Linked DNA regions of Homo sapiens: regions 1, 2, 4 and 5 are each linked to region 3. Evidence: fine-mapped expression QTL. A gene starts in region 3. Each other region holds a variant in brackets. All regions are shown on one strand. Distances are from middle to middle.

The links. PIP is the estimated chance that this variant, and not a neighbour inherited with it, causes the effect.
Region 1: its variant is fine-mapped to the expression of FAAP20 in tibial artery (GTEx, PIP above 0.99).
Region 2: its variant is fine-mapped to the expression of FAAP20 in whole blood (INTERVAL, PIP above 0.99).
Region 4: its variant is fine-mapped to the expression of FAAP20 in monocytes after LPS (Fairfax 2014, PIP 0.95).
Region 5: its variant is fine-mapped to the expression of FAAP20 in activated naive CD4 T cells (Schmiedel 2018, PIP 0.95).

The regions. Positions count from the first base shown.
Region 1 is chr1:2,243,045-2,248,142 of GRCh38, forward strand. The region is part of intron 1 of SKI (SKI proto-oncogene); the gene reads left to right. Among named protein-coding and RNA genes, the nearest start is that of SKI, 17 kb to the left of the region's middle. RefSeq lists enhancers at 354-874, 4,344-5,098. The variant T/G (reference allele first, on the strand shown) is at 2,858.
Region 2 is chr1:2,102,419-2,107,516 of GRCh38, forward strand. The region is part of intron 4 of PRKCZ (protein kinase C zeta); the gene reads left to right. Among named protein-coding and RNA genes, the nearest start is that of PRKCZ, 55 kb to the left of the region's middle. The variant T/C (reference allele first, on the strand shown) is at 2,793.
Region 3 is chr1:2,191,960-2,197,057 of GRCh38, forward strand. FAAP20 (FA core complex associated protein 20) reads right to left here and starts at 2,813. Exons shown (of 4, transcript NM_182533.4): 1 at 2,729-2,813; 2 at 2,039-2,174; 3 at 1,680-1,951. The coding sequence starts at 2,790. LOC112268219 (a long non-coding RNA gene) reads left to right here. Exons shown (of 1, transcript NR_168005.1): 1 at 1-499. RefSeq lists silencers at 2,568-2,657, 2,668-3,147 and an enhancer at 3,781-4,447.
Region 4 is chr1:2,367,168-2,372,265 of GRCh38, forward strand. The region is part of intron 8 of MORN1 (MORN repeat containing 1); the gene reads right to left. Among named protein-coding and RNA genes, the nearest start is that of MORN1, 22 kb to the right of the region's middle. The variant T/TA (reference allele first, on the strand shown) is at 2,020.
Region 5 is chr1:1,508,790-1,513,887 of GRCh38, forward strand. ATAD3A (ATPase family AAA domain containing 3A) reads left to right here and starts at 3,373. Exons shown (of 16, transcript NM_001170535.3): 1 at 3,373-3,684. The coding sequence starts at 3,480. It also overlaps a transcript of ATAD3B not described here. RefSeq lists enhancers at 1-223, 224-865, 3,121-3,180 and silencers at 2,681-2,880, 3,331-3,490. The variant C/CT (reference allele first, on the strand shown) is at 2,017.

The DNA.
Region 1 (5,098 bases), 51 kb after region 3:
GTGTGAACGCGGTTCCCCACCTGCCCTGCTCTGCTCAGCAGCTTTGGGATATGAGTGCCTTGGGTGCCTGGTGCCTTTTTGGGCCAGCCCTGTGGTATTTTGGAGTATCCGTTGGTATTGAGAGTCTGGAACTTACTTAGTGTCTGGGGCATGGGCCGTGTTTTGGTATCGCAAGAGATGCTTCAGGGCGCGTGTCAGCACAAACACATCACACGGGCTTCGTGACCATGTGCTGGCTGCACGAGATGTCAGTGTGCTCCGCGTACCACCTGCTTCATCCCCGCCCTGCCCTCTCGTGCTCCTCGGCAGGGGGCCGCCATCCTTATGCCCCGCCTGCCCTTTCTGCAGCTGTGGGTGCAGGCTGGCCGTTGTGCTCTGTTGCAGGAGCTCCTGTCAGGCTGCTGGTCTGCGCGTGTGCTCTCCGAGTGCCTGTCACTCTGGCTGACTCACTGTGTCAGTGTCACCGTGCAGCTTTGCTCGTCCTGTTCTTGTGCCTTGGGACGAGTGGGCAGAGTGCTTGCTGTTGGGTAGGCTGTGGTGCACCATGTGGGCCTGGGAGTGAAACAGCTTGGTCAGAGGGCATGTCGGTCACGCCAGGCTGTCTTCCAAAGCGTCCCAACACTCCCTGTCATCGGTCTTGTTGGCTGTAAACGAGTTCTCTGCTGCATGGGATGCTAGGGGTGTGGTGAGTTTCTTGTAGACGTGGCAGGTCAGAGGGGAGGCACACTGTCTGCCAGGCACCCTGTTATTTACTGATACACGCACACGCAATACACATCTCTATAGATTGCTTTTGTATGTTCACTCAGCTGGGATGATTCTGTGTGTGCTTAGATCTTTGTTCACGTTTCTGATCATTTCCTTAGTGGACTCTGAGATTCCCCTAAAAGGTGGGATTGTTTTACCCAAACTTTTCTTTCTTTCTTTCTTTCTTTTTTTGACACAGAGTCTCGCTCTGTCACCCAGGCTGGAGTGCAATGGCATGATCTCGGCTCATTGCAAGCTCCGCCTCCCGGGTTCATCCCATTCTCCTGCCTCAGTCTCCTGAGTAGCTGGGTCTACAGGTGCCCGCCACCACACCCGGATAATTTTTTGTATTTTTAGTAGAGATGGGGTTTCACCGTGTTAGCCAGGATGGTCTCATCTCCTGACCTCGTGATCCGCCTGCCTCGGCCTCCCAAAGTGCTGGGATTACAGGCGTGAGCCACTGCACCTGGCCCCTCCTGACAACTTTTAAGATTCTGTCATTTAGGCTGGGCATGGTGGCTCACACCTGTAATCCCAGCACTTTGGGAGGCCAAGGTGGGTGGATCACTTGAGGTCAGGTTTTCAAGACCAGCCTGGCCAACATGGTGACACCATGTTTCTACTAGAAAAATACAAAAATTACCTGGGCGTGGTGGTGTGCACCTGTAGTCCCAGCTACTTGGGAGGCTGAGGCTGGAGAATAGCTTGAACCTGGGAGGTGAAGGTTGCAGTGAGCTGAGATGGCGCCATTGTACTACAGCCTGGGTGACAGAGCGAGACTCTGTCTCAAAAAACGAAAAGCAAAAACAAGATTCTGTCATTTAGAGTGTCTTTGTTAATTTGAAAGGTGAAAAATCTCATCATTTAGTTTGTATTTCTTTGCTTTTTGGTGGGTTGATTGTTTTGTTATTTCAGTATTTTTTTCTGTAACTTGTGCATATTACATTTTCTTATTGTGGCAAAATAAACATAATGTTGACCATTACATGTAGCATTCAGCAGTGTTGAACACATAGGCTGACAGTGAAGGAATGGAAAAAGACATCCCATGCCATTGGTGACCAAAAGAAAACAGGAGTGGCTCCATTTGTATCAAACAAAATATACTTTTCTTCAGAAACTATTACTAGAAACAGAAAAGTAGTTACAGAACAATAAAAGGGTCGAATCAACTGGAAGATCTAACAATAATATATACGCACCTAACCTCAGAACAGCTAAAACTGTAAAGCAAATTCACGCTGCTGTTCACCCACCTTCCCAGGCTCAGCCTTTGTCCCCATGAGACACTCACTCCCCATTCTGCCTCCCCCAGCCCCCAACACCCACCCGCCGCTTTCTGTTTCTGTGACTTTGGTGACTCTAGGGGCCTCCTGTGAGTGGAATCGCACAGGATCTGTCCTTTTGTGACAGCTTATTTCACTCAGCACCATGTCCTCAAGGCGCAGCCATGCGTAGCCTGTGTCACAGTCTCCTTCCTTCTCAAGACTGAACCGCAGGCTGCTGTATGGATGTATTTTGTTTACCCATTTCTGTCAGTGGACACACGGGTGACTTCCACAGTTTAGCTGTCGTGAATGATGCTGCTGTGAGCACGGGTGCACAGTGACCTCTGGAGACCCTGCCTTCAGTTCTGGGTGTAGACCCAGAAGTGGGATTGCTGGATCATTGATCATTCTATTTTTATTCATTTATTTTTGAGACAGCATCTTGCTCTGTTGCCCAGGCTGGAGTGCAGTGGCACGATCTCGGCTCACTGCAGCCTCCACCTCCTCCTGGGCTCAAGCGATTCTCCTGTCTCAGCCTCCCAAGTAGCTGGGACTAAAGGCATGTGCCACCATGCCCAGCTGATTTTTGTATTTTTAGTGGAGATGGGGTTTCACCATGTTGGCCAGGCTAATCTTGAATTCTTGACCTTATGTGACCTGCCCGCCTTGGCCTCCTAAAGTGCTGGGATTACAAGCGTCAGCCACTGCACCTGGCCCTATTTTTCCTTCTTTTTTTTTTTTTTTTTTTTTTTTTTGAGGCAGGGTCTCACTCTGTTGCCCAGGCCAGAGTGCGGTGGCACAGTCTCGGCTCACTGCAACCTCCGCCTCCCAGGTTCAAGTGA[T/G]TCTCCTGCCTCAGCCTCCTGAGTAGCTGGGGCTATAGGTGTGTGCCACCACACCTGGCTAATTTTTGTTTTTTTAGTAGAGACGGGTTTCGCCACGTTGGCCAGGCTGGTCTCTGACTCCTGGCCTCAAGCCGTCATCCCGCCTCGGCCTCCCAAAGTGCTGGGATTACAGGCGTGAGCCACCGCATTCAGCCCGTTTTTCTTTTTAAAGAACCGACTGTTTTTCATAGTGGCTGCAGCATTTTCCACTCCCAGCAACAGCGTTCGAGCAGCACTGTCTTTGCATCCTCTCCAGCACTTGTTCTGTTTTTTGACAGCGGCCATCCTAATGGGTGTGAGGTGGCATCTCATTGTGGTTTTGGTTCTCATTTCCCTGATGATTAGTATGTTGGGCATTTTTTCGTGTGCTTATTGGCCACTCCTATATCCTCTTTGAGGAATGTCTGAGTCCCTCTTTGAGTCGAGTTGTGTGTGGGGGCCTTTGCTCAGTTGTACGTCTTTATCTACTCTGGTTAGTGATCCTGTTCTACTTGTAAATTTCTGTCTCCTGTTTGTCTACTGCGTGCACCGTGGTCGGATCCTGCCTCTGTTGCTGGAGGCTGCCTCTGTCCTCTGCTGTGGTGGTCAGGAAGCTGGAGCGTCTCGGCGCCAGATTCATGTTTGTAAGAGGAGACGCTCTGTGAGCCTCGGTGTGCAGCGCTGTCTGCAAGTCAGACTCCCCACCCCTCCTTTGTGCGAGCTGGGCGGGGGCTCTGCCGGGACTGGTGGTGTTCATGGAGAGGGCTTCTGTGTGATGAAGAGATGACAGTGACCTGCTGGGGCCGAAGGCTGTGAGTGCCATTGGGGGAGGGAGTCTCAGAGAGTGCGGCAGTCGGGCCTGATGGGGCTGCTCTTCTGTGAAGGGGCACCTACCGTGTGCCTGGCCTGTAGCAGCAGCAAAGAGGAACCTGATGGGGGGGGCCTCAGGAACCTCCACCTCGCCCACTGTGGCCAGGCTGCTTCTGCTTTCTGGGAGGCCTGTGCAAGAGCCATGGGCACAGGCCGGGCACGGTGGCTCACGCCTGTAATCCCAGCACTTTGGGAGGCTGAGGCCAGCGGATCACAAGGTCAGGAGTTCAAGACCAGCCTGGCCAATATGGTGAAATCTCGTCTCTACTAAAAATACAAAAGTTAGCCAGGTGTGGTGGCATGCACCTGGTCCCAGCTACTTGGGAGGCTGAGGCAGGAGAATCACTTGAACCTGGGAGTCGGAGTTTGCAGTGAGCCGAGATTGTGCCACTGCACTTCAGCCTGGGCAACAGAGCAAGACTCCATCTTAAAAAAACAAAAAACAAAAAAGGGAGCCGTGGGCATGTGTGTGCACAGGTGTGCATGGGTGTGTGCAGCTGGAGAGGGAAGGGCCTGGGTCAGGGGCGCCCTCAGCCTGGAGCCAGGGAAGGGCAGCGAGAGGACCCCAGACTCCCAAATGACCAAGGGCCTGTTTGCAGCGTGCTTCTCCCTCCTTTCTTCTGGCTCTGAAGTTATATCCTGCCAGATCCTGGAGAAAGTTCTTTTAGCAAAATGATGGCTTCGCTGAAGATGATACTTGCCACCTCACAGAAGCCTGTCACGTTCCTCCCTTTGGAACCCATTGCCAAATGTGGGTGGTGTGGTGGACCCGGGGCAAGGGGCCATTCTCTGGCAGCCCCTAGAAATGCCTCCCTGGGGTTGGGGTGCAGCCACCAGGCAAGAAGTATGTACCCCCTTGCCCTGGCCACTTGGGGTTTCTGGGACAATCTGCTGGCTTGGCCTTGACTTTTTCCTGAACCTAGGAGCCCAGGGCCTGCTCCTGGCATCAGGACTTGCTCTTCCTCTTTCCTGGGCCCCACAGGTGCCCTTGGGGAGCACACAGCTGCCCCAGCCCGAGTCCAGTCTGGCTCTCGGGAAGGGGCCTTACTGCTGGCTGCACACCTTGGCCTCCTTCCCCTGGATGCGCCATTGCCAACGCAGCTGGGACAGCCCTTGGACGCAGCGTGCCCGCCCCTTTTACCAGGGCATGTGGGCTGGGACCAGTTTCAGCCCCATGTTGACTTGTTTGGCTCTGCTGGTGGTGACGGGGGGGCGCGGTGGCGGGGGGCCTTGGTCGCGTCGTGTCTGCTCTTGTGCACCGGTGCCTCACGGAGAGGCTGTGGTGAGTGCGCGGAAGGACCCTGGTGCTTTTGGGGACTTTCTGGAGCAGCCCACATTCCTTCCCCAGAGCCC
Region 2 (5,098 bases), 90 kb before region 3:
GTCTCCCAAGTTCACACCATTCTCCTGCCTCAGCCTCCCGAGTAGCTGGGAGTACAGGCGCCCACCACCACGTCCCGCTAATTTTTTGTATTTTTAGTAGAGATGGGGTTTCACTGTGTTAGCCGGGATGGTCTCGATCTCCTGACCTCGTGATCCGCCCGCCTTGGCCTCCCAAAGTGCTAGGATTACAGGTGTGAGCCACCGTGCCCGGCCCTCGTTTTTGTTTGTTTTACTTTGTTATGAGTAATGATAGATTTCTAGAAACTTCGTGTATTTTTTTCTCCACTTTATTTCAACTTTGTAGAAAGAGATCTAAAAATGCAAGTCTCCTCCCCCAACCCCCAACTCTCCTGCGTCACGGATTGGTTCAGAACCAGGAGACACAGGGCCCAGAAACCTAGGGGCTGGAGGGGCCTTACCCTTTGGACTCTTGACTGTTTTTATATTCTGGCCCCTCCCCCCGTCTGTCTCTCTCTCAAGAGACAGGGTCTTGCTCTGTCGCCCAGGCTGGAGTACAGTGGTACAATCACGGCTCACTGCAGCTGGGCTCAAGCAAGCCTCCCACCTCAGCCTCCCAACTAGCTGGGACTTCAGGCGCGCACCACCACGCTTGGCTAATTTTTTATTTTTAGTAGAGTTGGGGGTCTTGATTTGTTACCCAGGCTGGTCTGGAATGCCCCAAGTGATTCTCCCACTTCGCCCGCCCAAAGTACTGGGAGCCACCACGCCGGGCTAGACTGTGGGGTTTTTGGGGGGCAAGAATTGTACTCATATCTCTGTTTCCACAGTGGGTCTTACACTGTGGACAAACAGCAGCTGATGTTCTCACCCGGCCTTGTTCTAAGAGGACTCCAAAAAGCAAGTCGTAGCCCCAGTGACTGGGAAAGGCTTCCCCGGGAGAGCGGCCGACACAGCTGCCGCAGTAGTAAGGGTTTATTTATCAAGACTGATTTATTTATCAGTTCAAGACACAGTTACACAGAGTGTGGGGGATGGTTCATCAGCAGCTGGCACGTCCAGTGGCGCGTGTGCCTCGGGAAGGCCTGGGAGGGGGACACAGGTGCTCCGCAGGGAAAGCTGCCCCCACCCCAGCCCAAAGAAGCCCTCCAAGCTCCATCAGTCATGCAGTCATGTACTTTTCCTCATCAGCACAAACCCCGCTTCCTTGAAGAGAAGCGTGAGGCTGGGCACGGTGGCGCGTGTCTGTAGGCCTAGCTACGAGGGAGGATCGCTTGAGCCCAGGAGGTCGAGGCTGCAGGGCTATGATTGCAACACTGCACTCTGGCCTGGGCAACAGAGAAAGAGAGAGAGGACTGTCTAGAAGGGAAAACAGGGATAGCAAAGTAGATGGGAAGGAAGGGCCTCTGGGGCGGCGGGTGAGTGCTGGCCGCTCCCCTCTCCACAAGCTGCTGTGGTCTCTGGGGGCTGCACCTGAGGCGGCAGTGGGAGGAGAGGGGTGAAGGGCAACGCGCCCCCGTTTAAACACCTCCTGGCCTGGACGCCAGCTGTTCACTTGTAATCACTGGTCACCCTGAAGAGATGGGATGGACCCCTGCCCAACATTTGGCTCAGGTGTCCACACAGATGACAGCACCGCACGCAGACGGGAGGGAGCTTCTCACCACATAATGAGGTTTTCTGGGGAGAGCAGGGGAGGGGGGTCTTCCAGGATGGTCCAGAAAGGTCTTGAGCGCGCCTGTAAGGAGACTGTCTCGGTTTCCGTGGCGGCTCTGGGGCAAGGCGGGGTGAGCAGGGGCTGAGGCTTGCAGGGTTTGAACTTTCCCCAGGGCCCTCATCACCTCACTGGGATGTGGGCGGGAGGGGAGCGGGTCGTCTCAAACACCTCCAGCAGTCGAACATCAAAAAGGGGGTCCAACTCTTGGTTGCGATTTCTTTGGCTGAAGCCTGGACTCCTAGCCCCACGGGCTGAGGGAAGGTTACGGCTGGTGGTTGGATAGACGCCAGTGCTTGCCCCAGAGCTGCAGGGGAAGAAGGTGGCCTGAACCTCAGGGCCTCTGTGTCCAGTTCAGGGGCCAGTACAGCAGCATCGGTCTGCGAGGGGTATGTGTTCTAGAGGAGTGAGGGGACAGACAGGGGAGCCCCAGAGGCATCCAGTGGCGCGAATGGTGGGAAGGGCCCTAAGAGGGGAGGCTGGGAGGGGACAATCCCAGGTGGCAGGGGATGGCCGCGATGAGGCCCTGGGGTGGAGCCCAGGCAGGGAGCATCCAGGGGAAGCCAGTGTGGGTGGGGACTGGGAGGAGAGAGGGAGGCTGGGCCTGCCCTGGCGAGGGGTGGTCAGAACATCGCTCGGTGCCAGACAGGCAGGACGCAGCGGGCTGGCCTGCGGGGCTCACTGCTGCCCCCCGGGGCCGAGCACGAAAGGGAGAGTTGGAGGGCGCTTCCTCGCCGGGTGTTGCGGTGTGAGCGGGGACTGGTGAGTGTGTGCTGTCTTCAGAGAGAGAAGAGCAGTTTTCAGGGTGAGTAGCCTTTATTCTTCACACCTCATTACACAGCACCCAGGCCTTTTATTCAGGAGGGCGCGGCCGGCCTCACCCCGACAGCCACCCTGGCTTGTTGACCTTGATCTGTGACAGCTCCCCTGTGAGTTCAGACTTCTCAAGGACGCTTGCATAGCCAACATTGTTGAGAACGAGTAACCCCTTATCACAGCACACGTCTGTCGTGCCATGAAGCAATTTCCCATCCCTGTGGCTTTGAAGGCATAAGTCACTGCGTCACGGCCATGCTGTTCCTTCCAAACCTGCTCGTCAGGAGACAGCTCTTGCGCTGTG[T/C]ACCGGCACTGCCGCCCAGCAGGTGACCCCAGCAGCTGGTTTGTCCCTGCCTGGGGGTGAGGGCCTGCAGGGTGTTTGTAGACGCAACTCTTGAAAGGCCCTGAGGTTGGGGCTTGGTCATGAGGGTGCCCGGGGCCCATCCGGGAGTAGAAGTAAGTGCACTAGGCATTTGGCCAAGGGTCACGTTAGGCCTTATTTATTTATTTTTTGAGACAGTCTCACTCTTTTGCCCAGGCTGGAGTGCAGTGGCGTGATCTCAGCTCACTGCAACCTTCGCCTCCCGGGTTCAAGCGATTCTCTTGCCTCGGCCTCCCGAGTAGCTGGGATTACAGGCACCTGCCACCATGCGCAGCTAATTTTTGTATTTTTAGTAGAGACGGGGTTTCACCATGTTGGCCAGGCCGGTCTCAAACTCCTGACCTCAAGTGGTCCACCCACCTCAGCCTCCCAAAGTGCTGGGATTACAGGCGTGAGCTGCCACTCCTGGCCAGGTCTTTTTTCAAATAAATGTCTAAGCAAAATGAATTTGGGGTGAAGTAGTCACAGAGCTGTCAGGAGGAGCAGGGTGGCTGCGTGCCCCTGGGAGCTGCTGTGGGTGATGACCAGGTGATGCCGGGAAGGTCACTTTCAGACACATAGTTGTCATCGTCGGATGAGAATTATTCTCAGGTCTCAGGTGGGAGGGGCTGCCCACCAGGCCTGGATGAGGCCCCACCCCCCCACACACACATGCTGGGACCACGAGTGGCACCCCCTGAGGATGAGGGGGCTCCTGCGTTTGTGCCCTGTGTGGGAGGTGCCACCTCATTTGCATGTGGCCCTTCCACGTCTCCTGGCCATGCCAGACAGGTCCTCAGGATTGTTGGGAGATGAGGGCCTCGCCCAGGACTTCGATGGGGTGTCCCCCCAGCCCCCTGTGGCTGATGGAGCAGCCTGACATTTTGTGGACACAAAGCCCCCTAGAGCCAGGGAAGGACAGGGCCGGACCCAGAGCCAGGGAAGGGAGGTGGAGCTCCAGCCAAGGCATCCAAACATCAAAAGGCAGAACTGAGCGGCTTGGTACTTGAAAAGTTTTTATTAGGAAAAATGCCAAACTGACAGAAGTAGAGAGAATTACATAGTGAGGCCTCGTGCACACCCTGCCTGGCTCCTGGCAACCTGCACTCCAGCCGATACCTGTGACTCTCAGCAAGCCCCTCTAGTGGGCGAGGACCTCCACACGTGTCGCCAGGCCAGGCGACTCTCAGCAAGCCCCTCCAGTGGGCGAGGACCTCCACACGTGTCACCAGGCCAGGTAACTCTCAGCAAGCCCCTCTGGTGGGCGAGGACCTCCACACGTGTCACCAGGCCAGGTAACTCTCAGCAAGCCCCTCCAGTGGGCGAGGACCTCCACACGTGTCACCAGGCCAGGTAACTCTCAGCAAGCCCCTCTGGTGGGCGAGGACCTCCACGTGTGTCACCAGGCCAGGTAACTCTCAGCAAGCCCCTCCGGTGGGCGAGGACCTCCATGCGTGTCACCAGGCCAGGTAACTCTCAGCAAGCCCCTCTGGTGGGCGAGGACCTCCACACGTGTCACCAGGCCAGGTGACTCTTCAGCAGGCCCCTCTGGTGGGCGAGGACCTCCACACGTGTCACCAGGCCAGGCGACTCTTCAGCAAGCCCCTCCACACGTGTCACCAGGCCAGGTGACTCTCAGCAAGCCCCTCCGGTGGGCGAGGACCTCTGCACGTGTCTCCAGAGGCCAAAGCAGAAGAAAACGTTAGCACAGGAGTCACTTGACTTCACCAAACGCAGCCAGGATTGCGGTTTCTCCGGCTCGGCTGTCTCAGTTGTTTAAGAGAGTTCATGCTTTTGAGATCAAAGTTAAAAGAAGGCCTGTGCCTCGCAGGGCCTGCTCTGCCTCCCCCGTGTTTCCTCGGGGTTCTGCGTCTGTGACCGGGGTGCGGAGCACTGGTGTGCAGTTCTCTGTCTCGTGATTCGTGTAACAGTGAGTGCTGCCTGCACCAACAGCCGGCTGCCTTCCGTGGCTGTGTGGGCTCCTGTGCGGAGGCCGCCCCTCTCCCTGGCCAAGCAACACTGAGGCGGGATTGCGTCCTCCCTCTCCTGAGGCAGGTCCTGCTCCAGACCTGCTTTTTTCCCGCACGTCACGTGTCCTGAGACCCCTCAGTGGATGCGTCCTCTCTCCTTCCACGGCCGCACACACTCCCGTGCCCGTTGGGCTGGGCTGACTGATGCATGTGGGGGCTCCGTCCCATCTTTTTCAACTACAGATGGAGCTGCGGTGGGAAAACGTGTGCAGATACCTC
Region 3 (5,098 bases):
GCATTTGACGGTCCTCTGGGTGACCCGGAGAACACCAAGGCTGTGAGAAATGGGAGGCCTCCTGGCAGCTCCACTCCCCAGACCCGCCTCTGCCAGGGCTCCAGGCTCAGCAGGCGCCTGTGCGGGACAGGGCGACGGTTCAAGACCAAGTCCGGCTGTTAGACCAGACCCTCCAATCCAGGCGGCCTCCCTGCTGGGGTCCTGTGCGGTCAGGAGTCCCAGGGCATCCCAGGGTGGCTGTGCAAACCCTTGTTCCCAAAGATATGGGGCTTGTCCCCCAGCTAGCCTGCCCATGCGGTGGCCACAGCCTCGGGTGAGTTCCGGTTCCAAAGTACCGGCTCTCCCTTACGATCAAGTGTTCGAATGTGCTTGAAGCATTCCAGACACACCAAGGCCTGGACCTGACTTCATTGACGCCTACTTAGGAAAAATTGAGGCAGTCTGCCAAGCTTTCAGCAACTGCTTAAAAAGCTCAAAATGGCAAGTTTTTCCTCGTGAACGTCCTTGTCTTCAGAAGTCTTTTTTTAGACTATCTGGAAAAGCAGGCGATGCAAAGACAAAAGCCCCTCCCCGGGGGGCGGGGGGCAGCACCCTGACAGCAACAAGGATCTCAGAGCTTCAGCCAAGAGCATGGATTTCTCCCCAGGGCTCCCAACAGTACCCTCTGTCCGTGATTCAGGGTCTTACTCTGTCACCCAGGCTGGAGTGCAGTGGTGCAATCATACTTCACTACAGCCTCCAATTCCTGGCTCAAGGGAATCCTCCCACTTCAGCCTCCAGAGTAGCTAGGACCACAGGCACGCGCCACCACGCCCAGGCATGTAAAGATGGGATCTTGCCATGTTGCCCAGGCTGGTCTCAAACTCCTGGGCTCCAGCAACCCACCTGCCTCAGCCTCTCAAAGGGCTGGGATTACAGGCGTGAGCCACCGTGCCCGGCCTTTTCTTTTGTTGTTGTTGTTGTTGGCTGCCAACTTTGGACTCCGGTGCCTTCGCATTCCCGAGCTGTTTTTGCTTCTGGAAGACCAGGGGCATCAGGCATGACTGAAGGACCTGGTCTCCATAAGCTCTGAAACCTGCCGCCCATTAACTCAACCAAAAGTTACGAACCAGCATCATTCACACCACCCCAGCCCCAGGACCTGCTCCGGAGGCCAAGGGCCCAGAGGTCGCCAGACACAAGGCCAGGCACTGGGCAGTTTGGGTTATCTTGTTAGCAAAACTGGGTTCCATTCCCCTTTACTTAAAAAATACATAAAAATATACGTTGGGTTTCAAAAATAAGAAAAAGCATCTCCAGACAAAAAAGACGATCTTCATTTTTAAAACCCATGACGCACTCTCGGGAAGGTGTTCCTGTGCTCTGGGCCTGGGGACGCTGGTGCCACCAGATTCCAGGATGGCCAGGTGGACCCGGGGCCAGTGCTCCCAGCCTTCCTTCTGTGCTGTTCTGTGGGCCCCCAGCCTGCCCTGCCCACAGAGCACGGCAAGCAGGTGGACCCCAGACCCGTGACAGAGAGCCACCTGGACATGCCAGGCCACAGCACTGGGCCACCTTTCCAGTGTGAAACAGGGCTTTAAAAGCCAGCGCTGAGCTCGGCCACCTCTTGACCTTCTGAACGGCTGTGGTTTCCAAACACGGATGGATAACCGGGCCGGGCGCAGGGGTGGCCTACTCACCTGGGGGCGAACTCCTTCTGGCACATGGGGCAGCTGCGCAGGGCCGCGGCACCCTCCACAGACGGCTGCTGCTCCACCCTGGGGGCCCTGCAGGGATCAGGTGCCGGGCGCTGGGGCAGGGACCTGGCGGGGGATTCCAGGTGCCCTCCTGCCCCGTGAAGCAGCCGGTAGGAACGGCCCGGGCCCCACAGGTCCGGCGGAAAGGGTGTCCAGGAAAAGGTCTTGGGTCCGACAGTGAAGACTTCAGTGGGCTCCGGGCCGCACCTGGGCTCCTGCAACACAGAGTTGTTGGGCCTTGCCCAGCGATGGCTCCCGCCCTGGAAACCCCTTCATCGCTAAGATGGGCCCAGTGGGCACACCTGTCCTGGGAAGGCGGGCAGTGAAGGCACCTCGTGATCCAGGATCAGCTCCGGGCTCACCGTGCGCAGTAGCTCGGCCCAGAGCCGCTCCCGCTCATCACCCCCCAGGAGAAACCAGGGGCGGCCGCCAGAAGGCCTGGGGCAGACAGAGAGGGCAGACAGGGGGTACTCAGTAGCGGAAACGCTATGGTGGGGAGACCCGGGAGGGCCTGGGGCAGAGAGAGCGGGGAGATGGGGGGTACTAGAGGGAAATTCGATGGTGCGGGAGGTGGCCGGCAGGGTTGGGGGAAGGGCTGCTGGGGCAGACAGTGCGGAGATGAGGGGTACTGGGGGTGGGGGAGCGGGGTGGGTGGGTGGAAATATGGGGTCCTCAGCGGGATGAGGCGATGGTTGGGGAGATTGCGGAGGGCCTGGGGAAGGTAGAGGGTTAGATGGGGGGTGCTCAGGGGAGACGCGATGATGGGAGAGGCGCGGGAGGGCCTGGGGCGGCGCGGGGGAAGCTCGGCGTGGGGTGGGGGCTCAAGGCGGGCGCTGAATGGCGGCGCGGGGTGGGGCGACGGGCGTGGGGGCCGGGCCCGGGGGCAGGGAGCCCTCCCCAGGGGGAGAATAGAGCGGGAGGCCCGCGGGGGCGCCGGGAAGCACGTGGGAGCGGGAAAACCGGCCGCGCCCCCGCCCGGCTCCCGGCCTCACCCGCCCGCCGGGCGCGGCCTCCGGCGGCTCAACCCCAGCCGCGGCCTCCGCGCCGCCTCCATCCAAGCCCGCGCCGGGCGGAAGTGAGCGCAAGCCCCGCCCCCGCCCCTCCAGGCCCCGCCCCCGCCCCGGCCCCGCCTCCAGACCTCTGCAGCGAGGCCGCCCCCCTCCGAGACAGTCGGAACCCCAGGGGCCCTGATCCCAGCCTGTAGGGAAACTGAGGCCAGGGTTCCTTCGTCCTGCACCGCACAGGGGGGCCTGGCGTGAGGGTGGGGGGCCCAGGTGGGGGAGCCCCGCCCGTGTCCCCTTTCCCGTCCGGGCAGCCCCCGGGCCGGAGCCCCCTCCGTTACCCCGATGGCTGCCCGGCCCGCCCCGGCACTGCCTCCTCCCGGCTGCACCCAACAGCTCCCGCCCCCGTTTCCGGCTCTGCGGAGCCGCCTCTCCTCCCAGGACCATTCCAGGAGTAAATAAAGCTTGAAATCCGCCGTCGCCACCACCGTTTCTTTACAAAAGGCGGGGAACTCAAGCTCCTTAACCAAGAAACCAGAGGCGAAGTGACAAAGTCCAGGTGGCTCACTTGGGCCTCAGGGGCCTGGGCCAGGGCCCTGGGGGCAGCTGAGGGGCTTTCCTGCCTGGACCCCGGGCTCTGCGACCTCAAAGTCGGCCACGTGGTGGCAGCAGCCGCCCAGGCACCCTGGTGCCACACTTGGCTGTGCCCAGTGCCCCATGGGCCCAGGCCACTTGCCTCTCCCTTGGCCCTGCTGGGCCCTGGAGTGGCTGCCACCCTCACGGAAGGAGTGGGGTCTACAGAGATCAGGGTCAGGGGCCCTCGCCAGACGCCACTCAGGGCTCTGGGACTCCTTGGCAGTTTCTGCCCTGCCCAGCCCCAGCAGCTTTGGGGCTATGCTGGGCACCCCTCCTGCAGGGCTCCCTGGCTGTTCCTACCCCTCACCTGGCCCCTCCCAGCCCCCAGTCGTCTGTGCCCTCCCTCCAGAACTCAGCTGTGGAGCCCGGCCCTGAACCCAGGCCACCCGAGTGGCCCACCGTCCTTCAAGGGGCCCCAGCCTGGAGGCCATAGGTTGGTGTTCAGGGAAAGGGTCAGCAGCAGGGCCTGGACTGGGAGGTCCCCCTCTCCCTGCATGAGTGGTTTTCTTCCGCACACCTTCCTGCTCTAGATGCTGGAGGCCCCCAGCAGAACAAGATGGAGGCACCAACCCCCAGGCCCTTCGACTTGAGTGAGCAGATGGAGATGCAGCGCTGAGTGCTGCCCGGGCAGGGGGAGGGGGCCTGGGGGAGCTGCTGCAGGCCGTGTGGTCTCAGGGGGCCCTGTGGGAGGTAGCCTGTGGCTGGGCCTGCTCTCAGGCGAGAGAAGCCCAGCCGTGGGGTCTCTGCAGCCCCACGTCCACCACATGGCAGGTGCCAGCTGACCAAGCGCTCTCAGACAGCCAGTGTCCAGGGCTCCCCGACAGTCCTGGCTGCCCTGGCTTCAGCTCCGAGCTTCTGGGTCTTTCCTGGAAATGTCACCATGGTCTGCAGGAGGGCCTTGGGTACTTCCAGGAAGACTGGTCCCAGCCTCCCAAGACAGGAGAAAAGGCCAGGCCCAGCAGCCCATGCCTGCAATTCTAGGACTTGGGGAGGTCCAGGCAGGCAGATTGCTTGAGCCCAGGAGTTTGAGACCAGCCTGGGCAACATGGCAAGACCTTGTCTCTATAAATAAAAAATTAGCTGGGCATGGTGGCATGTGCCTGTGGTCCCACCTACTTGGGTGGCTAAGGTGGGAGGATCACCTGAGCCCAGGTAGGTGGGGGCTGCAGTGAGGCAAGATCGTGCCACTGCACTCCAGACCCCAACTCAAAAAAAAAAAAAAATAGGCCAGGTGTGGTGGCTCAAGCCTGCAATCCCAGCACTTTGGGAGGCCAAGTCGGGAGGATCACTTGAGGCCAGGAGTTTGAGACCAGCCTGGCCAACATGCAGAAACCCCATCTCTACTAAAAATACAAAAATTAGCCGGGCATGGTGGTGCACACCTTTAATCCCAACTACTTGGGTGGCTGAGGCACGAAAACCACCTGAGCCTAGGAGGCATAGGTTGTGGTGAGCCAAGATCGCACCACTGCACAACAGCTTGGGCATCACAGCAAGACTCTGTCTCGAAAAACAAAAAAAGACAGAGGAGAAAAGCCCTTGGTGACAAGTGTTTGCTCAGCTCTCTGTGCCGTGCTGGGGGTGGTGGGGGGTGTTCTTGCTCCTTCCTCTCCCTTCCCCACTCTGGCTCCCAACCCCAGGGTTCTGCTGTTGGACCCGGGGGTGGCTCCTGCCTCCTCCTCCTCTATGGCCCCCACATGGTCCAGTGCCCTCCTGCCATGGGAC
Region 4 (5,098 bases), 180 kb after region 3:
GCATTACCTTGATAGCAAAACTAGACAAAGACATTACAAGAAAAGAAAATTTCATGCCAATATCCTTCACGAACAGGGATGCAGAAATTCCCAAAAAAACTTTAGCAAACTGAAGGACAAGATAATTCATTGCTCTATCAAAAAAAAAAAAAAAAAAGAAAAAGAAAAAAGGCCAGGCTTGGTGGCTTATGCCTGTGATCCCAGTATTTTGGGAGACTGAGGTGGGAGGATCGCTTGAGCCTGGGAGTTTGAGACCAGCCTGGGCAACATAGTGAGATTCTGTCTCTACAAAAAAAAAAATTACAAAAACAAACAAAAAGATAATTGGGGAAAGAATACTCTTTTTAACAAATGATCTTAAGACAAATAGATACCCACATTCAAAGGAATATACAGCAGTTGGACCCCTTCCTTACACCAAACAAAAAGATTAATACCGAACGGTTCACAGTCCTAAATGTAAGAGCTAAAAATATGTCATTTTTTTTTGAGATGGAGTCTTGCTCTGGGGTGCAGTGGCGTGATCTCGGCTCACTGCAACCTCTGCCTCCTGGGTTCAAGCAATTCTCCCTGCCTCAGCCTCTCAAGTAGCTGGGACTACAGGCACCCGCCACTATGCCCAGCTAGTTTTCGTATTTTTTAGTGGTGACAGGGTTTTGCCACGTTGGCCAGGCTGGTCTTGAACTCCTGACCTCAGGTGATCCACCTGCCTTGGCCTCTCAAAGTGCTGGGATTACAGGCGTGAGCCACCGTGCCTGGCCTAAAAATATAAAATTCTTAAAAGAAAACACAGGAGTAAATCTCCATGACTCCAGACTAAGCAAAGTCTTCATAGATATGACATCAAAAGCAACAAAAAGAAAAAGAGAGAATTGGGTTTCATCGAAACTTAAAACTTTTGTGTTTCAAAGGACACCAGCAAGAAACTGTCTGACTGCCCACAAAATGGAAAAATGTATTTGCAAATTAGATATCTGATAAGGGGCTTGTGTCTAGAATATGTCAAGAACTCTTACGACATCTTGATGCAGAGCAGGTGAGCTCTACAGCAGGGCTTAGCCTGTGAGGGTTCTTGGCTTTGGCCAGGGAAGGATTTAAGGGTGAATGGGAGGTATGGAAGCGGCAGGGCTACAGCTCCTGCAGAGCGGGGCTGCCCCCCAGGCAGAAAGCAGCAGCTCAGGGCAGTGTCGCAGTCATATTTATACCCACTTTTAACTGCGTGCAGATCAAGGGGTGGTTTATGTGGACATTTCTAGGGAAGCGGCAGTAACTTTTGGGTCATCAGGCCATTGCCATGGAAAGGGGTGGTAACTCCCAGGTGTTGCCATGGTGATGGTAAACTGGCATGATGCGTTGGTGGGCGTGTCTTATGGAAGGCTGCTTCCTCCCTGACCCTGTTTTATCTAGTCCTCAATTTGGTCTTGTGTCTGAGCCCCACTTCTGGAGTCAAGTTCTGCCTCTTATCTCCATTTCTCCAACTAAGATCTACAAATGGCCCATAGCACACAAAAAGATGCTCAACATCATTAGCCTTTAGGGAAATGTAAATCCAAACCACAAGAAGGCACCACTTCACACCCACAAAGATGGCTACATCCAAAAGACAGACAGGCCAGCACGGTGGCTCATGCTTGTAATCCCAGCACTTTGGGAGGCTGAGGCGGGTGGATCACAAGGTCAGAAGATGGAGACCATTCTGGCCAACATGGTGAAACCCTGTCTCTACTAAAAATACAAAAATTAGCTGGGCGTGGTGGTGGGTGCCTGTAGTGCCAGCTACTTGGGAGGCTGAGGCAGGAGAATCGCTTGAGCCCGGGAAGCAGAGGTTGCAGTGAGCTGAGATTGCACCACTGCACTCCAGCCTGGACAATAAAGCAAGACCCAGTCTCAAAAAAAAAAAAAGGCGGGGGGCAGTGGCTGATGCCTGTAATCCCAGCACTTTGGGAGGCCGAGGGTGGTGGATCAAGAAGTCAGGAGATTGAGATCATCCTGGCTAGCAGGGTGAAACCCTGTCTGTAC[T/TA]AAAAAAATACAAAAAAATTAGCCGGGCATGGTGGCAGGCGCCTGTAGTCTCAGCTACTCAGGAGGCTGAGGCAGGAGAATGGTGTGAACCCAGGAGGTGGAGCTTGCAGTGAGCCGAGATTGAGCCACTGCACTCTAGCCTGGATGACAGAGCAAAACTCAGTCTCAGAAAAAAAAAAAAAAAAAAAAGAAGACAGACAATAGCAAGTACTGAGGAGGGTGTAAAGCCATTGGAACCCTCTTTCATTGCTGGAGGTAATGTAAAAACCTTGCAGCTTTTCATGTTCAGACTGAAAAGGAAGAAGTAAAACTGTATTTATTTATAAACAATATGATCGTATATAGAGAAAATCTTAAGGAATCCTCTAAGAAACTAGTAGAACTAATAAATGAGTAAAGCAAGTCAAAGGAAATGAGGTCAATATGTAAAAATCAATTGTAGTCTACGGCAACCTCTGAAATGAAGTTAAGAAAATTCTACTCATGATGGCATAAAAAGAATAAACAAATTTATCAGCATTTAGAAATAATTAATAAAATAATTATAATTCAATATCTAATAAATAACATTATTATGTATTAATAGCTTTCACAAAGAAGTGCAAGATGTGTGCTGAAAGGAACAAGACGCTGGTGATAAAGTAAGAACTCTACCTAAATGGAGAGATGCTTCTGTGTTCATGAGATGGAGGCCTCAGTGTTGGTAAGATTTCATCTGGACATTCTCTCCAGAGGGGTTCAACGCACCTCCATCAACATTCCAGCAGCCTTCTTTTGTTGTTGTTGCAGAAGTTGGCAAACTGATCTTAAAATTTTATACAGAAATGTAAAGGTCCCAGCAGAGTCAAGATCATTTTGAAAAGGAAAAACAAAACTGGAGGACTCTCCAATTGGAAAACGTGCTAAAAGCAACAAGAATCCAGATAGCGTGGCCCTGGCATAGACTGAGGATAAATCAGGATAGACAGATCAGTGGAGCAGACGGGGGGTCCAGGCATCAACCCTGACTCTTAGGGCTGACTGATTTTCAACCAAGGTGCCAGGGCAACTCAACGGCAAAAGGACGGTGTTCTCAACAAATGATGCTGGGATGATTGAACATCCCCATGAAGAAAAGATGAATTTAGAACTTTATCTTTTCCATAAAAAATAACTCACACTGGATCCCAGGCCTAAATGTAAGAGCTAGAACTATAAGAGTTCTGGAGGGATACGAGAAAATCTTTGTGAAACTTGGGTTAGGCAAAGAATTCTTAAATACGGTACCAAAACTATGCTCCATAAAAGAAAAAATGGACAAACTGGACTTCAGCAAAATGAAAAACTTTTGCTGTTCCAAAGATAGCATTAGGCAAATGAAAAGATGAGCCGTAGGTGGACGGAAAGCATTTGCAAAGACATATCTGATAAAGGACTTATATCCGCAATAGGTAAAGAACTCTATAGCTAAAAATAAGAAGACAACCTTTTTTTCATTTTTTTTTCTTCTTTTTTTTTTTTTTTAAATGAGACAGGGTCTCCCTCTGTCACCCAGGCTAGAGTGTAGTGGTGCAGTCACGGGGCTCACTGTAGCCTCAACCTGCTGGGCTCAAGGGACTCTCCCAATTTCAGCCTTCCGAGTAGCTGGGACCACACGCATGCACTACCATGACCAGCTAATTAAAAACAATTTTGGTTTTTTTTTTTAGGGATGGGGTCTCACTATATTGCCCAGGCTGGTCTTGATCTCCTGGACTTGGCCGGGCACGGTGGCTCACGTCTGTAATCCCAGCACTTTGGGAGGCCAAGGCGGGTGGATCACGAGGTCAGGAGATCGAGACCATCCTGGCCAACACGGTGAAACCCCGTCTCTACTAAAAAAAAATACAAGAAATTAGCTGGGCGTGGTGGTGGGCGCCTGTAGTCCCAGCTACTCGGGAGGCTGAGGCAGAAGAATCGCTTGAACCTGGGAGGCGGAGCTTGCAGTGAGCCGAGATCGTGCCACCGCACTCCAGCCCGGGTGACACAGCGAGACTCTGTCTCCAAACAACAACAACAACCACAACAACAACAACACCAAGAAGAAAGATCTCCTGGGCTCTAGTGATCCTCGCACCTCAGCCTCCCGAAGTGCTGGGATTTTAGGTGTGAGCCACTGTGCCTGACTGATAGTCTAATTTTTAAAAAATGGGTACAATATTTGAATAGACATTTCTCCAAAGAAGATAAACAAACAGCCAATCAACACAGCGAGAGCCACTCATCGTCATCACTCGTTAGGGAAATGCGAATCAAAATCACGAGGAGCTATCACTTCACACCCACAGGGCAGCTATTACAAAAAGACACAATTCCAAGTGTTGGGAAGACGCAGAGAAATCTGAACCTTCATGCATTACTGGTGGGACTGTAAAATGCTGCAGCAATTTTGGAAAAACAGTTTAGCAGTTTCTTTAAAAGTTTAGGCCAGGCGCGGTGGCTCACGCCTGTAATCCCAGCACTTTGGGAGGCTGGGGCGGGCTGATCACCTGAGGTCGGGAGTTCGAGACCAGCCTGACCAACATGGCGAAACCCCATCTCTACTCAAAATACAAAATTAGTGGGGCATGATGGCACATGCCTGTAATCCCAGCTACTCAGGAGGCCAAGGCAGAATCACTTGAACGCGGGAGGCGGAGGTTGCGGAGAGCCGACATTGCACCACTGCACTCCAGCCTGGACAGCAAGAGTGAAACTCCATCTCAAAAAAAAAAAAAAAAAGTTCAAACATAAATCTACCATGTGATCCAGCAATTCCATTCATAGGTGCATACCCATGAGAAATGAAAACACATTCACACAAAAACTTGTATACACATGTCCACAGCAGCACTATTCATAACAGCCCAAGGTACAAACAACTGCGATGGCCAGCAGCGGATGAGTGGGGAAGCAGAAAGTAGCCCCTCACTAGAATGGAAGACTGTTCCTCCTAAAAAGGAAGGACACTCTGACACACGTGCACGCGTGCCCCCCCACACGTATACACATTCAGACCTGTGCACACCTGTGCAAGGCATACACACATATGCACACACATACAGGAGCACGCACATCACAC
Region 5 (5,098 bases), 680 kb before region 3:
CTGCCTCTGCCCTGGAGGCCTGTGAGGGTCAGGGTCTGAGGGTCTGAGGTGCACTATGACCCGGGGGCACTGCCTGGCCACGGCTGAGACACGCAGAGGGTCTGCAGTTCCCACCTGCCTCTCGGAAGCTGCCCTGGGTCGGCCGTCAGTGAGGCTCCGCCTTGGGCTTTCTATTATTAGAAAGTCATTGAGCAACAGCAGTGCTGAGGACGCAGGCAGGGCTGTGGGCACTGCAGGGGCTGCCCCCGGTGTCCACACACGTGCTGGGCTCTGCCGAGGTGCGGGAAGCCTGTGTTTCACGCTCAGGCCATCCTGGAGCCCCTGGTTTGGTCCCTCCCCACCTCGGGGCCCTGGCGTGCATTTGGGGTGGGGGGTTCCCATGGCGGCCTCCCTCAGCTCCCTCTCTCCCCACTAGGCCACGGCGTATGCCTCCGAGGACGGGGTCCTGACCGAGGCCATGATGGACACCCGCGTGCAAGATGCTGTCCAGCAGCACCAGCAGATGATGCGCTGGCTGAAGAGGGGGAGGCCTGGGCCCGAGGACGAGCAACCCTCATCCTGAGTCCATGGGGAGACCACACCTCACGGAGCCTGGCCGCGGACCCCTCCCACCCCTGCCTTTGCGGCCCCGCACATTTAGGAAATACTCCCCGTAATAAAGTCCCACGGGGGCCGCACCGCTGTGTCTATTGGCTGGGGCGGGGTTTGGGGCCCCCTAACGTCCCCCTGGGGTCAAAGGTGACAGAAAAGGCAGAAGCTGGGGCTTTCTGGAGGATTTAACCACAGAGGGGTGGGCTGCACAGGAGGTGCCTGCCACGGCAGGGCCGGGTGCCCGTGCCCCATCCTGAGGCCGTGCATACGCGGGTGCCCTTCGCCTCCCTCCCCTCCGCCAGAGCTGCCTGTGGCCAGACACACGGTGGAGGGAAGTGCACGCGAAACAGACACAGCGGCTTCAAATAGATGCCGCCCCTGCCCGCGCTTTGCAGCTAGTCCCTGCAAACCTTGATGATGGGGCTGGGCGCGGTGGCTCACGCCTGGAATCTCAGTGAGGCCAAGGAGAGTGGATCACCTGAGGTCAGGAGTTCCAGACCAGCCTGGCCAACATGGTGAAACCCCATCTCTCCTAAAAAAAAAAAAAAAAAAATTAGCCGGCCGTGGTGGCAAGTGCCTGAAATCCCAGGTACTCAGGAGGCTGAGGCAGGAGAATCACTTGAGCCTGGGAAGTGGAGGTTGCACTGAGCTGAGACCATGGAATTGCACTGCAGCATGGGCAACAAGAGTCAAACTCCCTCTAAAAAAAAAAAAAAAAAAAAAAAGGGCCAGGTGGCACATGCCGGTGGTCCCAGCTTCTTGGCTTGGAGGCTGAGGTAGGAGGATCGCCTGAGCATGGGAGGCAGAGGTTGCAGTGAGCTGAGATCGCACCATTGCACTCCAGCCTGGGTGACAGAGTGAGACCCTCTCAATAAATAAATAACCAAAACCTTGATTACAGCCATGGGGTGGGGGTGGGGGGACGTCTGGCTATTGCTGGGGAAGTCATTTGGTTTTTCTCCTCCTCTCCTATTTTTTTGGTACAGACGGGGTCTCTCTTTGTTGCCCAGGCTGGTCTCCAACTCCTGGGCTCAAGCAATCCTCCTGCCTCGGCCTCCCAAACTGGCGGGGTTACAGGCGTGAGCCACCGCGCCTGCCCTGTTTTCTTTTTCTTTTTTTTTTCTTTTCTTTTTTTTTTGGCGATGGAGTCGTGCTCGCCCAGGGTGGAGTGCAGTGGCCTGATCTCGGCTCACTTCAACCTCCACCTCCAGGGTTCAAGCAGTTTTCCCGCCTAAGCCTCCGGAGTAGCTGGGATTACAGGCGCACGCCACCATGCCCAGGTTAATTTTTGTATTTTTGACAGGGGTTTCACCATGTTGGCCCGGCTGGTCTCAAACTCCTGTTTTCAGGTGATCTGCCCACCTCGGCCTCCCAAAGTGCTGGGATTACGGGTGTGAGCCACCGCGCCTGGCCGGCATTTTCTGG[C/CT]TTTTTTTTTTTTTTTTGACAGAGTCTGACTCAGTCGCCCAGACTGGAGTGCAGTGACGAGATCTCGGCAGCTCACTGTGTTATATGTAAATTTTCTGTGCCGCCAAAGAAGTAGAACTCGAATATAAATTTTTCTCAGCTAGATAATTTACTTCTATAGAAGGGGACATCTCATAGATGGAGCAATGGCGAGCGCTTGGACAAGGGAGGGGAAGGGGTTCTTATTCCTGACGCGGGTAGCCCCTACTGCTGTGTGGTTCCCCTATTGGCTAGGGTTAGAATGCACAGTCTAAACTAGTGCCCATTGGCTATTTTAAAGGGAGCAGGAGTATGGGCCAGAGTGGCGGGGTGAGTGGTTTGGCGGGAAAAATGGTTATGGGACAGGTAACTAAAGGTGACTCAGGTCAAAGCAGGAGACCGGGATTAGTTAGGACGGAGCAGGTGACCAGGGCAACAGATGTCAACTACTGACTAGAACTGGTGGAAAAGGTTGTTTACTGAAACTGCGAGGAAGGTAGACTTTAAAATGCAGGACAAAGACTGAACATACTGATATACTGATTCTTTGAAGGGAAGTTTAGAACTCATTGTATCTAACATTATTCAGGCTTAAAACAGTTTCCAATCCAGTGGGAAAAGTCACTCCATATATTCCGTGAAGTCAACCAGTTCCATCAAGGAGAAAGTCAGGGCCGCTGGGAGCGCGTGGACCGTGGGCTCCGGGGCGGCGCCTGCCCGGGCACCCCGGCCCCGTCCACGCCCCGCAAGAGGAGCTCGCTGGCCCCGCCACGCGGGAAGGGGTCGCCCCGGGGTCTTGGGCGGGAGGGCCGTGCGGGCTGCGGAGACACCGAGGAGGGGAGGCGCCTCTCCTGAGCTCTTGGCGCAGCGACCCCAGGGCGCCGACTCATCGCGGAAGGGCTCGGCTTGCCCGGGCGCCGGTGCCGCCTCGGGTGAGGTTCCCGCGAGACTCTTCTCTGCGTCCTGGACTCACCGCAGGGCGCCCCGCCGCACGGATCGAGAACCTTGGGGCTCCCTGGAAACTTGCCACCCGCTGCCGCCAAGGCCGGAACTCCTCGGAGCCCCTAGCAACGGAGCCCCTAGCAACGGAGCCCACGCGGATGCGGCGCGGGGCTGACGCTGCCTTGGGTTCGCCTACGTCCCTCGGGAATTTTGTCCCGGCGTGGCTCCCGTAGCCAGATGCTTCGCCGCTCCCGCCCCGCTGGCTCCCAAAGCCTGTTCGGCAGTCGCGGCGCCGTCGCTATGGCGTCACTGTCCTCGGGGCCAATCCAAGGGCTGCGCGCGTGTCCCTTACGCGCTTCTATCGCCGGGAGGAAGGGGTGTGTGTGGCGCCTGCGCAGTGGCGGTGACCACCGGCTCGCGGCGCGTGGAGGCTGCTCCCAGCCGCGCGCGAGTCAGACTCGGGTGGGGGTCCCGGCGGCGGTAGCGGCGGCGGCGGTGCGAGCATGTCGTGGCTCTTCGGCATTAACAAGGGCCCCAAGGGTGAAGGCGCGGGGCCGCCGCCGCCTTTGCCGCCCGCGCAGCCCGGGGCCGAGGGCGGCGGGGACCGCGGGTTGGGAGACCGGCCGGCGCCCAAGGACAAATGGAGCAACTTCGACCCCACCGGCCTGGAGCGCGCCGCCAAGGCGGCGCGCGAGCTGGAGCACTCGCGTGAGTGCGGCGGGGCGGGGCGGCGCGGGCGGGCGGGCGGGACGGGCCGGGGAAGCGGGAGCCCTGGCCCTTGCCGCTCCTCGCCGCTGTCGGCAGCCACTTCCCGGGCGAGACTGCGCCCCCGGAGCACCCCCGGCCGGAGCCGTGTCGCGTGCCGGGAGGATCGGACTCTTTCCGTCACCCGTTTGCACCTCTGCAGCTGTCAGGAGCGGGTCAGGTGCGGAAAGCGGTGCGGAGGTGGCGCTCATAGGTTACAGGGGTCAGGGTCTGGGGCTGGCCGTGGTCTTCAGTTACCGCCGAGCGTGCGGGATCCTTCTGCGCTTGCCGCCTCCACGTGGCACAGGCCAAGGCGTGGCCAGATGGGTAGATGGGTTTGTTGGGTGGTTGCTAGCAGTTTCCACGTAACAAGGGAAGCGTATTTGAGAGTTACTTGATTCTAACGAGACTAGCAGATTTGCACTTCTTGTTGGAAGACGTTAGCATTTGCACGGCGAGGTCTGTGAAGCCACAGGCCAGGCCGTGCTGCTCAGCTTGAGTAAACCCCTGACCCAAGGCCCTCAGGGTGTGAGCACTCACCATGTTGTTCAGGCTGGTCTTGAATTCTGGCCTCAGGTGATTCGCCCACCTCGGCCTCCCAAAGCGCTGGGATGACAGGCGTGAGCCGCTGCTCATGGCCTTCCTCGGTAATTTTAACCATCAGGTTAGGATGGGAATCAAGGGCTGGACTTCAGGGCACCTCGGAGGACAGCGGATGTTGGTGACTGACTTTCTTGCTGCAGGCTTATTTGGAGGGTTCCTTTGTGTCCTAGTTCCTGGGGGTTTTCACCCGCTAACTTCACTTAGAGATTGAAACTTCTCCCACTTCCAGAAGCTGAATCGTAGTGATCAGCCTGCGGCCCCCTGCAGTGGTACAGGCCTGGTTGAGCAGCCTCAGGCCGCCTCCCCATAGTGCAGACCTGTGCCTCTGAGTTGCTCCAGTCCTGGCGGCCCCGGAGCTCCTGACCCGCAGTCCGCTCTGCCGGCGTTGCCAGTGCCTTGGTCTGCCCTCTCTGTGGTGGAGCGGGGCCCGGGGCAGGGTCTCCAGGTGCACCGTGGGGAGCCCTCCATCAGGCTTTTGTTTCCTGTGGATTGTGTTCCAGGTGTGGGCTCTTTCATTCTGATCCCTTCCCTCCTTCCTGGCCTCACTGCTGGCAGGTGAGAGAGGTTTCTCCAGAGTTGACTGCCCCCTTTCCCCGGGTGCCCCCTGCCCTGCCCCTCTGCCTGGTAGCCCCTCTGCAAGCCCGGCCCCTCCCGACGCTCCTGGCTTCCTCCGTGCCCCTTTCCTGGCAGCGGGTCGCCGAGATTCGGCCGGAGCCCATTGCTTTGTCCTTGCTGCTCTCCAGGCAAACGGGCGGCTCCTCCTCACCGACTGCCT